Linked DNA regions of Homo sapiens: region 2 is linked to region 1. Evidence: fine-mapped expression QTL. A gene starts in region 1. The other region holds a variant in brackets. All regions are shown on one strand. Distances are from middle to middle.

Region 1 (2,924 bases):
TGTCAATTGGTGAAACTAGAATACTGATAGTGGATTTTTTTAAAGTACTGTGTCAATGTTAAATTGATTGAAGTTGATAACTTTATGTGGTTATGTAAGAGAATGCCCCTATTCATAGGAAATAAACACTGGCATATTTTAGGATAAAGGACCATAATGTATGCATTTAATCGCAAATGGGTGAGAGAGAGAGACAGAGACAGAGAGAGGGCAATGATAAAGTCAGTTGACAATTAGGGCAAATGAAATATAGATGTTCAATATAATATTTCTAGTCTTATAATTTTTCTGTAAGTTTGAAATTATTTTCAAATAACAACTTAAAATACACATTAATAGCTAAAGGAGTGCTCAGAGTCCTGTGTTCCAGCACTGTGCCACTGCATATCAGAAGCTCCAGAGAACTCTAAGAATAAGGCCATGCCTTGCTGAGGAAGTCTGTCTTGGCATTGGAAAAAACTGAGCTCGTATTATTTGTATAAAGAGCAAAAGAACTAAGTGTTCTGTGGCAGTTGTGAATTTGTGAAGTTGTAAGGGTCTTAACTTGTATATGACCCCATATTTTCTGTTCAGCATATATTTGTCTTATAAAAATCAATTGTTAAACAGAAGAAAAAGTAAATAATAATCAAAGGAAGCCCCAGCACGGTGGCTCACGCCTAAAATCCTAGCACTTTGGGAGGCCAAGGCAGGAGGATCACTTGAAGCAAGGAGTTCGAGACCAGCCTGACCAACATGGTGAAACCCCCTCTCTACTAAAAATACAAAACTTAGCCAGGCGTGGTGGCACATGCCTATGGTCCCAGCTACTCAGGAGGCTGGGGCATGAGGATGGGTTGAACCCAGGAGGTGACGGCTACAGTAAGCTGAGATCGTGCCACTGCACTCCAGCCAGAGTGAGACTCTGTCTCAAAAAATCATCATCATCATCATCAACAAAGGAAGAAGAGAAATTCTCATTGCTAAAGCAGAGAATTCATAAAGAGGGTATCACAGGGACATGAAATTTCCCTTTGGTATAGATTTTTTAAATTGTAAGATATAGAGAGAGCAAAGCTGATAGAAAGCCTTCATTTTTCTACGGCTACAGTATCATCTTAACAAGTTCCTGGAGTGTCAAACGCAGGCTGAATTACTCTTTTAGGACACGCAATAAAAGGGGTAGAGATTACAGGGTAATTTGAAGGAGGCTAATGTTTCTATTCTTTTAAATCTGACAACAGATCATATCATCATTTCATGATACTGTGTACTTAAAGTTTTCTTACTATTTTTTCACTGCTTTGGAAAGCAGCCTTAAGTAACGTCTTCCTGTGCAAACTGGTAGAACCATTCTGACCACCCCGTTAACAACCCCGCTTTGGTTGGCGCGAGCCTGACCGGCGGTGCAGTTATCTTCCTGAAGGCGGCGCTGTGCCCCAGCTGTGCTGAAGGAGGCCGGCGTGAAGGAAGGGGAGGGGCGTTCCCGGGCAGAAACCCAGCTGGGCGCCGCGTTTAAAAGCACAAAGGGAGCATAGTCTAGTGAGAAGCTACACGTTTGCAAGTGGTACACATAAGAAGAGAGATATGAGCGGCTTCTATGCCCTACAAAAGCGTCGAAATTAAAAAAGGCACAATCTTTTGTTCTTAAATCCCCAAGTGATAATAAAGATGTTCGCATAGTCATTATCCCATTACCTTTTATTTCGCATTTCTCTCACCTTCTTTTGTCATTTTTTAAACTTTTTCTCCTTCCCCCTCTTTCACTCCAGAATTTGTTTTATAATTGATGTCGATGTTTTCTGTTGCTTAGAAATTAAATTATCAGAAACTCCTTTGTATACTGGTCTCTGACCTATAAATAGCACCACAGCTGCCTGTGACTTACAGCAATTAAAGATTTTTGTGCTAGCCAGAAAAAGAAAAGAAAAGAAAAACCTGAAGGTCCCAGTGTAGCATGTCTAGTTGTTCTGCTGGCTTTATTGGGAGGAAATATGAGAAATGGCTCTTAGAAAATATTTTCCTTATCAATAATTGTTCTTTGGAGTTCACCTTACTCAACGAGGATGTATCAGAAATAATTATTGGGGTTGAATGTATTTCCTGTCAATTAGTGTGGTCTTTTTCCACAAGAGTACTTTCTTTTCATTTTTCAAGGATCATAGACAACAGCTCTTCCCTATAAAAATATTTTTGAATAAAAAGTACCATTTCCATTATAAGATCTTGGCAATCAACATATCTTCTATTATATCCAAAAGAAGAGAAAGGCTTTAATGGGGCCTGGTTATGATTAATAATAGATTTGGTGAAGAAAAAGCCAGCCAGACTTTAAAATAGATGAGACCATTCTTAGTCTTGGTGAGTCTTGGTTCAGCTCATTAGGGAAGCCAGCTGCGATGCAGATTGGCATACCATTTCTGTGACAGAGGAATTTCCCATAAGAGCTCTCTCCTAAAGGAGGCCAGTGTGTTTTTAGGTGAGCCCTGGCCACATCTGGACGATAGAGATGAACTGTGCCATACAGGAGGTGGAACAAGAGTAGAGGAAAACAATACAAATGACTTTTAACATTTGGAAGCCTACTTTTAGAGGGAATACCAACCAAATGGGACCAATAAAATGATAAAATAAGAGGAGTGATTGAAAAATAATTTCAGCACAATCTTTAATCTATGAAGAGCTAAGAGATGGAAGACAGGGAACGGACATGTCTTCTTTTGTGGGAAAGGCAATAAGGAACAGATAAAGGCTGTAGGAAGAGTGCCAGATTGCACTAGGACAAACTGTGCACCAGGTATCACAAGAAACATTGCCAAGGATGTTGTACACACACCTTTTATTTTTAAGAATGCATAAACTGTCTTTTGTGAATAAACTAAATTTAATCCTGCTTACAAGCAGAAAGATAAACCAGGTAGTCCCTAATTTCTTGTGATCACATA
Region 2 (2,924 bases), 28 kb before region 1:
GCAATTAACTTACCTGTGGATGAGCTTGATGTTTTGGGGGCCTCTTAAAACACTGGTAGGGCACATCTGGAGTATCTTTTATTCTAAGGCTAGTTTAGCTCTACTTTTTAAGACATAGCCTTCTGGGGTCTTTTCTGAATGCTCCAGGTGTTCAATGGGCTCTTTTATGTCTTTGGGGGTTTGTTTGTTTGTTTGTTTGTTTGTTTGTTTTTTATTGCTGGGGAGAGGAGGGGGAACAGAGTCTCGCTGTGTTGCCCAGGCTGGCCTGAGACTCCTAGGTTCAAGTGATCCTCCCACCTCAGCCTCTTGAGTAGCTAGGATTACGGGCACACACCACAGCCCTGGCTTCTTTTATTTTGGATGGTCAAAACGTACAGTATCACAACCGTATGTAAGCTCTGAGAATTGTTCCGTTTACAACTCCCCAGGAGTCTATTTTTGCCTAGTTTATGCATACATGGCAGAGCATTCAACAAAAAACTCAAGAGGATGCCGATGCAGGTTTCTGGAACTTTCTCTTTGCACCACTCCCTGCTCTCCGGTATTCTTCCCCACAAAGTTCAGCCATCTCAGCTCTCCTGAACACTGACATCTGCCTTTTTCAGAGTAATGCTCTACTTGAATTCCCCTTCCCTGTGCCACAGTTTAGAAGGTGTCTCCAGGCAAAGAGCCAGGGCAATTGCTGGTCTCACCTAATTTATTTTCTTTCTATTTAAGATACAGGCCTGTTCTGTTGTTCAGTATCTGAAATTGTTGTCTGTTATATTTTTTCCAGTTGTCTAGTTGTTTATGGAAAGGAAAAAAATTCAGAACCGGATAATTTGTCCATGCTTTATATATTTAGTAGGAGTTTCAAGAATGTCTTTATAATGGGCCAGATTGTCTCAAAAATTACAAGTATATTAAACACTAAATATGTATATGTTTCTTCTTAACCCCAAAATACTAAGCCATGATTTTATTTCTCTTAAACATTTCTATATTTAATTCTGAATTTTACTGGGTTTAAAAGATTCTCACCCATTAAGGAAAACAGTCACCATCCCCATTAACTGAACCACAACACTGATTGTACTGATTGTGTTCTAGGCAGTCCTGAGGGGACTCACTGAGTACT[C/G]TTTGTGATTGCCATGTCCATGATGCCATCGCTTAGAAGAAGTGCCACTTGGCCCACATTCCTGAATGCAAGATAAACACATTAATTCTTCTGTCTACTCACAGCAGTGCTCAACTCCAACTCCAGTTGATCGTTTGATCAGATTCTTCATTTGTTTGGTTCCTAAGATATAGACATGTCTTTCTTTCTGTCTTAAAAGGCCTTTAAATTCCATGGAATCCTGCATTTTTTTCAGTCTCGTGATTTACAGATGATGTATTGCTATTCAGTTGAATTTTAGATCTCTCTCCTGGCATTATCAAACTTGCAGCCATAACATCTGAGGTCACTCTCTCAGCACCAGGGGCCTTGTGAATCTGTGAGCACTGTGCCAGCACAGCCTTACAAAGCTGTGGCTCAGACAGGGCAGATGTGATCCTCAGTAGCAGGGCAATTGTAACTATGCCAACAATGACTCTTTGGGTCTGGGGGAAAGTTTCTGTCTATCCACAGTGGACTCTAGAGGATAGTGTGGGCCAAGTGGATATAGTATTGGTTCATTCAGAAAAATACAAACTTCTCTAGGTATCTCAAGCTAGAAAGTGATTTAAATTAAGGAATTAAGAGACAAAATGTGGGAGCTAAAGGAGCAAAAATTGGGAAAGTTGGTGGTTTCCAAAGATGAGAAACATCAGAAAATCATAGCATCCTACCAGGAGTAATGCCCATCTAATTCCTCATTTCTCTTCCCTGATACAGCATGTGAGCTCCAGAAAGCCTGGGTTTTGCTAGCTATTTCCTCTGCAGGCATCTATGCTCACCTCCAGAGGTACTAGAACTGCTGGCACTATTGCAATAGTCTGTAGTCACCTGCCTCTGCCATAAGCAGGGTAGTTTCTATCTTCTTCCCACATTTAATTTGTTATGAGTGCCTCCCATTGCCAACAAGGAATCCCAACTGAGCACAAAATCTGGCAAATGCAGTTTGCAGGTTTCCAGCCACAGTGGCTTAGGGAAGAGTATAAAAGAGCAAGTATGGGTCTGTAGCTATAGCTACATTAAAGCTATGGCTTTAATGACTCTATTTTTGAAAAGCCTGACACATAGGAAACTCTCAAAAAATAACTGTGGTTTCTGTTATTTTTATTTAATAAGCAGTGGCATGAAAAGTCAACCTATATCTGGGCTAACCATACAGGAACAGACTGTAAAGATGACTGTGCCCTTTACCCAATAGTGCTACCCATCCACACAGTTCTCCTTTTTCCATTTCAGGAATGGATAAAACAATGATTGTATTGATTTCCTGCTCACTGTGGTATTAATTGCTTGTGGTCCCCAAACACAATGTAAGTTAGTAATCTTCGTATCCATCCATTTGTTATAGGATTTTTGGGGTGTCACTTCACCAGCTGGAAATCTCTGTGGCTAGTGGTGCCTTTGCCCGAGTTTTGCTCTGTCCCACTGGGCTCATTCTGCCCATTTGGCCTGTCAGGCTGCGTTTGGCTCATGCTACTGGCCTAGATCCCACGCCTGCCAAGGGCAAGCCAGGCACAGAGCAGCGAGGGGTGTATGAGTGGAGTGTGGGGTCCAGGCATGCTAGCTGCTGCTGCAGGGTGGGCAGCTCCAGGTGCCAACACAGGCACTGGCTCCCTGTGAGGGCACAGCTGGACCAGGCACACCACAAGCAGCACCCACAGCTGGCACTAGGGAACATAGTGGTGCCCACAAGCTTGGAGATGCCAGGAACCACAGGGCTCCAAAGAGGGAGTCACAGCCCTGGCTTGGGGAGTTCCCAGGTTTGGGCTCCCCAAAGAGCCACAGCTCT

Direction of the effects. Positions count from the first base shown, and alleles are read on the strand shown. Sizes are in standard deviations (SD) of each study's normalised expression.
For the expression in testis of the gene that starts at base 1,312 in region 1, C is the high allele of the variant in region 2 and G is the other (small effect, 0.29 SD a copy in GTEx).

The links. PIP is the estimated chance that this variant, and not a neighbour inherited with it, causes the effect. A credible set is the group of variants that fine-mapping cannot tell apart.
Region 2: its variant is the best candidate, but not a certain one, in a credible set for the expression of XKR4-AS1 in testis (GTEx, PIP 0.69).

The regions. Positions count from the first base shown.
Region 1 is chr8:55,519,667-55,522,590 of GRCh38, forward strand. XKR4-AS1 (XKR4 antisense RNA 1) reads right to left here and starts at 1,312. Exons shown (of 2, transcript NR_134323.1): 1 at 1,269-1,312. The region is part of intron 2 of XKR4 (XK related 4); the gene reads left to right. RefSeq lists an enhancer at 1,331-1,420.
Region 2 is chr8:55,491,448-55,494,371 of GRCh38, forward strand. All of the region lies in intron 2 of XKR4 (XK related 4), which reads left to right. Among named protein-coding and RNA genes, the nearest start is that of XKR4-AS1, 28 kb to the right of the region's middle. The variant C/G (reference allele first, on the strand shown) is at 1,118.